Linked DNA regions of Homo sapiens. The protein of the gene in region 2 interacts with the protein of the main gene of each other region in a biochemical or structural test. Each region holds a gene or a part of one and is shown on either strand. Other genes may lie near its edges.

What was found.
Region 1: the proteins of FRA10AC1 (region 2) and MAP3K12 form a complex in vitro, tested with the Homo sapiens proteins (one study listed by BioGRID).

What each region holds. Positions count from the first base shown.
Region 1 is NC_000012.12:53,479,169-53,482,760, forward strand, and holds the end of MAP3K12 (mitogen-activated protein kinase kinase kinase 12), read right to left. Parts: coding exon 3,397-3,592; coding exon of another isoform or gene 3,331-3,396; exon of another isoform or gene 3,202-3,330; coding exon 3,131-3,201; intron 3,044-3,130; coding exon 2,773-3,043; intron 2,113-2,772; coding exon 2,014-2,112; 3' UTR 501-2,013; downstream 1-500. Other genes in the region: PCBP2 (poly(rC)-binding protein 2), read left to right, coding at 238-274.
Region 2 is NC_000010.11:93,699,328-93,706,748, forward strand, and holds the start of FRA10AC1 (protein FRA10AC1), read right to left. Parts: upstream 3,266-7,421; 5' UTR 3,048-3,265; exon of another isoform or gene 2,847-3,047; intron 2,469-2,846; exon of another isoform or gene 2,349-2,468; intron 780-2,348; coding exon 703-779; intron 1-702. UniProt on the Homo sapiens protein: May be involved in pre-mRNA splicing.

The DNA.
Region 1 (3,592 bases), on a different chromosome or scaffold from region 2:
GTTTGAGGGACATTGGATAACAAGGGCTGTTTCCCTTGGTTCTGAGGTAATAGACCTCCACATGCTTGAATTGCAAGGATTAAAGGATCATGGTACTGGTAAATTTAAGAAACCTTAAAATGTCTCCCTTGGTACTCCAGCACTGGTTATTTACTCTTCACATTTCATGAACCAGGTAGAGATGAGGTGCAGCTGAGCACTGGGGAAACTAACTGAGTTCTTGTTTCTGTGTTACAGGCTTTCCTCGGAGACGGGTGGCATGGGGAGCAGCTAGAACAATGCAGATTCATCCATAATCCCTTTCTGCTGTTCACCACCACCCATGATCCATCTGTGTAGTTTCTGAACAGTCAGCGATTCCAGGTTTTAAATAGTTTGTAAATTTTCAGTTTCTACACACTTTATCATCCACTCGTGATTTTTTAATTAAAGCGTTTTAATTCCTTTCTCTGTTCAGCTGTTGATGCTGAGATCCATATTTAGTTTTATAAGCTTCTCCCTGGTTTTTTTTTTTTGGCTCATGAATTTTTCTGTTTGTCATGGAAATGTAAGAGTGGAATATTAATACATTTCAGTTTAGTTCTGTAATGTCAGGAATTTTTCAAAAAAATTAAAAGATGGACTGGAGCTTTTTCTTTGTGAATAGAAACTGGATGCCACAGTGATTCATGTGGGTTTTATTCCTCTTGTCTTGCTGTTATTTTTGTACCTTTTATCCCTCAAAGGACCCTTCTTGGGTTTTGAATGGAAGCCTTTATTCCGGTTAAGATGTTTTCTTCTATTTTACCACTTCCATCTTTTTTTGTGGCCCTCGATCCTATTTTTCCCTGACTCCATGCTTGGTTGGCCCTTATAAAACTTGTGCCCAAAAGATTGAGGATTAGACTTTCCGAGGACTTACCTGTCCTAGGGGAGTAGGCAAGCACTTCCACTAGGGAGGGGGTGGGGGAAAGGAATGACACATGACATACATGGCATACACATTAAGCAGTTGATCATATGTCTGACTGGGTTCCAGTTTCTTGGGAATGTTGGTCCCCTTGTTCAGGCTTGCATATTTTAAACTAAAAATTTCAGTCTATTGTTTTTAGTAACTTCATTTATAGTCCTCCATAACAAGTTAGAAGGATGTATCTGCTACCATTTATTCCTATAATTTTAGAAAGTTGGGGCTTGACATTATACTCATTTAGTGAGAGTAGATGCAAAAAAGTGGAGGGGCAGGAGAACTTCTCCAGACACCTCAGATAAAGTCCGGAGCCCAAGGCTTTATCTTAACCATGTATGGTACCCCATTCATTCATCAAGAAAACCCTCAACAGCTGGGCCTGCATGGAGTGTTATATTTCAAGGTTTTTCACAGGGGTTACAGTAGGACAGTCCCCACCCCAATCAGGCACCAGGATAAAAGCAGGGACTTAAACAGCACCCCGGTTCTTCAGCCTGAGCCATCACATGCTATCAGTCTCCTAACCTCCCCCTGGGCCTTAAGACAGGGCTTGGGCAGAGAAGATAAATGGTGGGACAAAAAAATGAGTTACATTGCCACCTGAGAAACCTCAGAGGGGAGGACCCAGCCTTAGCCTCCCTCCTCCCAAGTGCAAAATGTGTAAACAGAGTAAACGGAACAGAAAAGTGCAGTCTAAGTGGTTTTCTCTCCTGCCCCTCCCACCGCCCCTCCCCCCACCCCCTATTATTTGGGGATAAAGAATATAAAGACAACCCTGGCTTTTCTATTGCCTTGTTGCTTGCTGAATATAAGGAATGGGGTGGGGCAGGAAGGGGCTTGCCCTTAGCCACAGCTCTACGGCTGTGCCTCATTCATTTCCACAGCTGCCAGTGTCCCTAGAGTTTATCAGGTGAATTGGTCAGGGGATCAGTCTCCCTCGAGCCTGACTTACGGCTGGGACAGCCCCATCTTTCTGTTGATTATGTGGCGCATATATATATATATATGTATATATATATAATTTATATAAATATTTCTCTATGTACAAGGAATACGAGTGGCTTTCATGGAGGGAGGGAAGCTGGGGGCCGCAAGGCATCAACGCTGTTGGAGTTGTCCAATTCAGTGCTGTCACAGTCTGAGTCCTCAGAATTGGGAGGGCCCTGTGAGAAAGAGTAGAAATGGAGTGAGATTCCTTGGGGTTCTTTGCTGGGGTCATTTTAATAGCCAGTGGCTTACTGATTTGTTTTTTAAGACAGAGTCTCACTCTCGCCCAGGCTGGAGTGCAGTAGCACAATCTCGGCTCACTGCAACCTCTGCCTCCCAGGTTCAAGCAATTCTTCTGCCTCAGCCTTCTGAGTAGCTGGGACTACAGGCATGCACCACCACGCCCAGCTAATTTTTGTACTTTTAATAGAGATGGGGTTTTACCATATTGGTCAGGCTGGTCTTGAACTCCTGACCTTGTGATCCACCCGCCTCGGCCTCCCAAAGTTCTGGGATTCCAGGCGTGAGTCACCATGCCCAGCCAGCTTACTGGTTTTATTCCTTCCAGATTTCAGTTGCTCAGGCCATTCTCCAAGGTGTCAGACTCCTTTCAGAATCATTCCCTGGCTGCAATTTATAGCTACATGCAAGCTACTGGTCAGGCATCGTAATAGATGCTCTGTGCAAGAGGCTTCTGAAATTCCACCACGTGGATATTTGCTCTTTATGGTACTTTCTGGCCTGTGCAGCTGTCTCCCCAAAAGCTGTTAAAAGACAAGGCATCTGCTTACAGCTCTCCCTGTTCAATATCTGCTTTTTGCTGTTGTGCCACTCACCCGCTCTCTGAGAAGTTCCTGGTGTGGAATGGGCAGGGAGCTGGGTTCAGGGCCAGGGATGACCTCTGAAGGAGGTGGGTCCAGTGGGATTTCTGAGCCCTGGGAGCACATGTCATCAGACCGCTCATCTGGCCGCTCATCAGTGTTGGTGCTGCCAACTTCAGGTGTGCCACTGGGGGAAGGTTCACTAGCTGTGCCTTCCTCCCCATCTGATGGATTCTCTGAGCTGAAGGTAGATAGTGACTGGCGCATGTTCAGGCTCTGAGGCCACCTACATGTTGAAGAGGGGGATTACAGCTTGGTTCTGCCCCTAGCAGAAAACAAGAATGCCATTAATTCTTGTAATGCCATCACTTACCTCTGGCTTGATGTCAGCTCTACTTCACTGTCTACCTCTCCTTCCTCCTCTTCCGATGAGATGCCACGTTTCTGCAGGAGAGATGGGGTGGGGGGGGTCTGATTAGAAGTGGAAAGAGGTCACTAAGAATCCAGGAGAAGGGAACATAGTTACGAAGGGTGAAGTAGGGAATGGCTTAAAATTGAGCATAATGTGGGGGATTAGACTTGGACCCCAGGGAGGATAAGGAAAAAGGGAAAGAGCTTGGGAGCCTTCCCATACTTTACCTGACTTCGGGTGACGGCAGCCCTGTACAGCAGTGCAGCTGGGGTCAAGTGCTGGGACCCAGCCCGGCTTCCTCCCCGGCCTGAGGTCCCTTCCCTTCCAGTTCCCAGAAGCCCCACACCTTCACCAGGCCCTACTGGAGGAGGTGGTTCCCCTTTGGCTCCCCCAGGTGAATCTGGGCTGGTGGAGCCAGGGGCT
Region 2 (7,421 bases):
AAATAATAAGCCAATTTCTATACATTTGCTTAAAAAAATCAGTCAACAGCCGTGTAAGTTTGGTTAGTATACATCAGTCAACCACTCCTGAGTCAAAGTATAAAACTGAGTTTCTATGCACTGAAAGCTAAGAACAATGCTCCTACGCACAGCAGCTCCACCAAGACGTATCCTGCTTATAACGCACAGGCTTTATGTGCTAAGAGTTTTTGTCTCTTGCAATTCAAAAAAACCTTCCTTGAGTTTCTTCCCGTGACCTTAGTCTGCTCATTCACGTATGCGTAAGAACTGTGCTGCATTATACTTTCATCCTCCATATTAACTTCACTTTGAAGGCAAGTAATGGCAAGAGACCACCATTCAAGCCCCTTCTGAGCTACAACATTTACAAATAAACAGTCCTTGACAGTTGAATGAAAAATATATGTAATGAAAAGGTTTCACTGATTTCTGAAAAGATTCCAGAAATCTGAAACTCTTCTTTCCCTTTCAATAAACCCCTTTGCAGAATTAATTTTTATTTTTCCCACAATTGTTCTCCAATTTTTAATCAATGTATTAGCTTAATGAACAAAAATTCATTCACTAGAGCAATTGTCTTCACATGTAAACAGAATTCAAAAATTTCACTCTTGTTTATTTATACTTCATATTAATCTAGAAAGGATGTGAAAAATAGATCAATAAAAAAAAATTACTTACCTTTTTTTCCTTTTGCTGGATTCTCCACAGCGTTCATCATCACTAAAATCAGAATCATAGCCTCCATGACCATGCATCTGTAAAGGAGTACAAAGTCAGCTATTTAGAATCTATGTTGCCAATTGTCCAGGAAACAATAATTCAAAAATAAGTTATCTTAAACAGCCACAATAGTTTTAAAGGATCATTGTGGGCAGATTCCTATTCACAGGCCATCTAGCCATCTAAAACTTTCATTCGCTTTTAAATAAGAGACATACCTTTCAGGAAATGCATCAACATTTTTCACCCTTAATTATCATTAGGTGAACAAAGAAGGCTACTCTTTGATCTTTTCACTGAAAAACCAGGCCTAAAAGCTGCAGTGACTGCTTACAAGGTTTAGCAATCCTTCACTTTTGATTCAGAGTAGTAATAATCACTGTGTGTTTATCACCAACTTTGTTCTAGACATTGTGTTAAATACTTTACAAACAACACTTCTAATTCTGCAAGTTAGAAAGTTATCTTCATTTAGGAATGAAGTAATCAAAGTTAAGTAAATCTATTTACAAATCCAGTAAGTGGCTAATCTGCTGTACTTGATTCCTGCGCCCACAATTTCAATTACTCCAAATTTCCTCTCTGGAATATGATTTACTATATTCCAGGAGAATTACAGTATTTGTGAACAGTACATCATCAATTGATGAAAATTTTCCTGTAATCTTTTTCAATATATGTAGAGATTTCCATTTTCTTTTGAGTTTCTTTAAGGTAAACCACCTTGCCCTTTGGATTAGTCAGCTTTCTCTTGTTTCATTTTATTTATCCAGTTATTTTTGGAGAGTCTCGCTCTATTGCTCAGGCTGGAGTGCTGTGGCGCCTTGATGGCTCACATCCTCAACCTCCTGGGCTCAATCAATCCTCCCACCTCAGCCTCTCCAAGTAGCTGAGACTACAGGAGTGCATAATCACACCTGGCAAACTTAAAAAAATTTTTTTTTTGTAGATAAGGGGTTTCGCCATGTTGCCCACGCCGGTCTCAAACTCCTGGGCTTGAGCAATCCGTCCACCTCAGCATCCCAAAATGCTGGGACTTCATTTTAGAACTGAAATTCTTAGAAATGCTGGAAGACCTCAGTTGCCACTCAATTGTATTGGAAGAAGCTCCTAGTTCCAGCTTTGCACTGAATTTGGAACACACACTAAGAAGGAAGGATGGACTATTTGATGTCATACATAACTAATTTACATGGCTGGAAGGAACAGTCCAGGTTAAATGATATATCAAATTGTTAAAACTAATATAACGACAGCAAGTGCAGCTGGAAAAAGAGGAAAGAACTCTCTAAACTTCATTGCATTGGATCTAGGGTAAACGACATGTTTCTAGTCCTGGCTACCTTGAATAAGTCATTTCATCTCCCTGGACTTCATCTATTAAATAAGATAGCTACATGAAATAATCTTTAAGTTGTTTAAATCTTTAAATAACCTTTAAAGTCTGTAATTCCATTTTCAAACATAGGTGTGTGGGTATATACCTCTCTTCTCTGCCCCACTAAAATCCTAGATAGGAAGATGCTAGTTAAGGTTGGAGATGAAGGTTTGAAAGCCCGAGTTCCAACTCTACCCTCCCTTACATCTGTTATTGCCTTACACACCTGGATTTTACACCCTTTTTTAGGTCAACTCCAGCTGTCTTACCACATCTGTTCAAGCCATATTGTCCTCTCACTCTTTGTCCTATGTCCTCACGTTCTTTACATCTTGATGGGGGACAGCTGTAGTGTGTTTAGAGATATATTCTAGGATCAGCCTACTAGATTTCACTGCTTGGCTCTGCACTTTCCATTTGTCTTTCTTTGGGCCTGTTCCTTAACCTCTCCAAGCCTCAGTGTCCTCATTTATAAAAAGAGGCTAGTAAGATGGCTGACCTCATACGAATGGAGATTAAAAGAGTTGCCTCATCTAAAGGGTTTTAACGGTGTCTTGTACAGTGAAACCCAGTAAATGTTACATCATCATCATCATCTTTTCCCTCGCCCCAGGACACGACTTCCTATTCTTGCTCCCACTCTCCCATTTCTTTATTCGCTGGCCGCTCCATCCGACCCATACCTATCTTAACTCACTGGTTGAACTAAAAAGCTCTCACTCACTTCAGGCCTACGAATCAACTGACAAGAGCGGGGAGAAACTCAAAAACGGAGATGCCAGGTGTCTCCAGAATCTGTCATCCAAAAAAAAAAAAACCAAACCAAAACAAAAAAAAACCCGACGATCAGCTAGTACTATATGAAAAACAAGTTTTGAGGTCCTTCTCCCTGATGCCAAATATACCCACAGCCCTCCTCACACACCCTTTCCCTTCCTCCCTGTGTGCCAAGTTCGCCCCCGGAGTCGTCGTTTCCTTCTTTCCCGGCAGCTGCAGCGACGACCCACGGCCTGAGAGAGCCGCTGCAGCACAGGTCCCGTGCGCCCTGCCGCACAGCCTCGCCACAACCACCACCGCCGCCGCCGCCGCCGCCGCCGCCCGCAACCCGCCTCTCCCTACGGGTCCCGACTGGGCACCACTTCCGGTCCGACACGGCCACGTGTTACATCTAAATGGCACCGTCCCCCGAGTGCGCCGACCTTGTGCTACAGCCAGAACAGCTCCGGGAAACAAGGGCAGCGGGAGAAACGGCCCGGAAAGGGACGAAGAGGCTTCCAGCTTTCGCCAAGTCGCGGCTCCCAGTTTTTCCCTGGGCCTCCTTCCTTTCCCCTCTAGGGAATCCGGCATCTAGTACCGCTGGCACTGCTTGCTGCTTAGCCCACGCCTCTCATTTGAAAATATATTTTGTTTTACCGTGCCTATCACCTGCCGTCCTCTCTCTAGTAACCTTAGTAACGCCTCCTCGGAGGATCCTCTCAGAGCAGCTCATCAGCGCTTCAGATCAGCCTCTCCCTCCTTCCCCCAGTAAAACAGTTCTCATAATTAGAACAAAAATATCTCTCCATCGTTTCGCCACCCACACAATAGATACCATTCCAAAAGCAGTGCTGATGGCAGAAGAGCTCATCGAATTTGTGAGGAAAGAAAGAATAGGAGGAGAGATTTCTCAGGGTTGAGGATTCTCTGCCGACAAGCGACCTGGCACATGCGAAAAGGGATCCAAAATAGAATCTTAAAAAGAAGAAGAAAAAAGGCAGGAAAAGTTGGATTATTTTAAGCGCCACTAGGTTCTTCCTGTGCTTTGCGTTTTCTACATCACGACGCCCCACTCTTTCCACTCTAGTTGTTTGGTTCATGTCTTGTCTCTCGCTGGCATTAGCAGCTATTCATTTTTTGCTTCCTCCTCAGTACCCAAAACGGTGCCTTGGAAATCACAAGTGCTAATTAAATATTTGTTGAATTGAACTGGCACGCTTCTGGCGTTTACAGTGGGCCCTTTTTAGAGAAAACCTTGGCACTTAATGCACAGTCATTTTACATCTTTTGCCCTAAACAGTAGATAACGATATCCTTATCAGTTCAAGTCTCTAACCCTGACAATAAATTATAGATACATTCTGCTTTATCCATTGCACTGAATGTGATCTTAAAAGGCTATAAGATAAATTAAATTATTGTAAATTAACTTATTCCAAAATGCAATCAGATTATACTTCAATAAAAACTTTTACTAAAAAAAGTGAAAGCAATAGGAAGCCTTACAATTTGACGTTATAGTATATGGAATTATTTTGTCAAGCAGTTTCTTTTTTGGTAAATATATTAAATATATAATTATTTTATTGTTAATAAAACTAAACAGACCTATACCTCATATCCAATTTCCTTTCTATCCATATTTGACATTTATTAGCATTTTTCTACCATCCCTAGCATCTTCTTGTTTGTTGCTTCATTTTACTCTTCCAACAACCCTGTGCTGCTGTGTTATTAGCCTCATTTTACACATAAGGAAGAGAGGCACAGAACCTAAAGCCACAAACCTGGTGAGGGTCGAGAACTGGGTAGTACTTGTGTCTGTCTCTCTATAAGACCCAGTTTCTCTCTCTCTCTTTCTCTCTTTTCTCTCTCTCTCTCTGTCTCTCTCTCCCCCACTTCATGGATTGTGTGGGAAGTAGCTTCTGGTTCCAACATTTCTAAGAATTTCAGATCTGTTGCTACCAGTCCATTCAGGCAAAGATTTCCATTTTTTACTTTGAGACAGCAGTTACTGAAAAAGAGTAAATAGAAAATATATATTAGGCATAGATTGCATGATCTGAACTAGAAATAATACAGGATAGAAAACCCACCTGCTTAGGAAATCTCAAGTTAACAATTATAGCTCAACAACAATAAAAAACACAAACATTTATTCAGTGCCTACTCTGGGCAGGACACTGCCCTAGACATCAGGGTTACAGGTATGTAACAGCAACTCCTTATCCTTGAAGGTTGACTAGTAAGACAGACAATGTGTGGAATAACTACAACAATATATTCTATCATATACCAAGTGTCTAGTACATGCATGAACCTGTTGTTCCTAATTTATAAAATATGTTATTTCAATGGATATGAAAATTTAAATGTGCACCAATGCTATGTAACTCAAAGCAACAAAATACTATATTAAGTATGTGGTCAGGATGAGGGAAGTTGGGTGATGATGGTGGTGATAATACCAAGTAATAATTCTGATATAAACTATGACTGTGCATTCTTTTTTATTCAAGACCGAGTCTCACTCTGTCACCCAGGCTGGAGTGTAGTGGCGTGATCTCAGCTCACTCCAACCCCTGCCTCCTGGGTTCGAGCAATTCTCCTGTCTCAGCCTCCCGAGTAGCTGGGACTAGAGGCGCACACTACGCCCGGCTAATTTTTGTATTTTTTTACTAGAGATGGGGTTTCACCATGTTGGTCAGGCTGGTCTCGAACTCCTGACCTCAGGTGATCCACCCACCTTGGTCTCCCAAAGTGCTGGACTTACAGGCGTAAGCCACCGCGCCCAACAAATGTGCATTCTTTCTTTTCTTTTCTTTTTTTTTTTTTTGAGACAGGGTCTCACTTCATCACCCAGGCTGAAGTATAGTGGTGCCATCTCAGCTCAACCTCCACCTCCCGGGTTCAAGCCATTCTCCTGCTTCAGCCTTCCCAGTAGCTGGGACTACAGGTGTGAGCCACCATGCCTGGCTAATTTTTGTATTTTTAGTAGAGGCAGGGTTTCACCATGTTGGCCAGGCTGGTCTCGAACTCCTGACCTCAAGTGATCCCGCCTTGGCCTCCTAAAGTGCTGGGATTACAGGGGTGAGCCACTGCGCCTGGCTGAATATGCATTCTTCTAATACTGTGTGTCTTTGAGAAGATTGCATTTTCCATGTTCTTTTTATAATATGATGCTGACACTTCTCTAACATAAGCTAATACCTATGGCCACAGCTTTGAATCTGGGCATGTCAGTGACTATAGCAGAAGTAATGCTAAGACACTTCTGATGCTAAGTTGCAAAAGGTGTTAGAGCTTCTGCCTGGGTTTGTCACTCTACTTCTTTAGCTGACATGGAGTGGAGCAGAGATGAAGTAACTTCACTGAGCCTCACCCAGATTGCAGACTAATAATCAGAATAAGTATAATTGTTTCAAGCCACTAAGACTTTGAGGTTGTTTGTTATATACCGATAAATATCCAGAACCATCTGCTGTCTCACTTAACCTCCATAACATTTGATGTTATGGAGCCACGCTGGGCTTTCTTTGTTTCTTCAACATGCATGCCTCTTCAAATTTACCATTTCCTCTACCCGGAATGGTCTTAAACCCTTTCTGTTTGCCTCCCTAACTCCTCTTTATCCTTCAAAACTCAACTTAGGTGAAGGAAAGGCCTTTCATGAGCATCTCTCCCACAGACTAGATAGGATTACTGATAATATGCACATTACTTTCCATTGCACTTAGCTACATACGTAGTAATAATTTAGCCCTGTTTCCCTCACTGAGATGCAAGCTCCACAATGGCAGGAAGCATACCTCTCTTTTTCAGTGTGGAATCCCCAGTGCTCAGCACAGTGCCAGACACATGATAGTTGCTCAGAATATTTATTGAACAAATGAAGTGGGTACTATTATTATCCCTATTTTACAATAAGAAAACAGATTTTTTTAAAAAAATTATATAACACTTCCAGAGTCATGAGTAAGCAAATGGGGCACAAATATAAGTGACTTCAAAGCTCACACCATATATATGTGTGTGTGTGTGTGATATGGTTTGGCTCTGTGTCCCCAGCCAAATCTTATGTTGAATTGTAATCCCCAATGTTAGAGGTGGGGCCTAATGGGAGGTGATTGGATCATGGGGGTGGTTTCTAATGGTTTACCACCATCTCCCTAGTGCTGTCTTGTGATAGAATTTTCAAGAAATCTGGTTGTTTAAAAGTGTGTAACACCTCCCTCTTTGCTCTCTTTCTCCTACTCCTGCCATGTAAGACATGTCTGCTTCCTCTTCACCTTCCACTACGATTGTAAATTTCCTGAAGCCTCCCCAGCCGTGCTTCTTGTGCAGCCTGTAGAACTGCGAGTGAATTAAACCTCTTTTCTTTACAAATTACCCAGTCCCAGGTAGTTCTTTATAGCAATGTGAGTACTAATACTAAATATATACATATATATATACACACACACATATATGTATATATAGAGAGAGATAAGTAGAGAGAGAGTGTTATCTCTCTGTTGCCCAGGCTAGAGTGCAGTGGCACAGT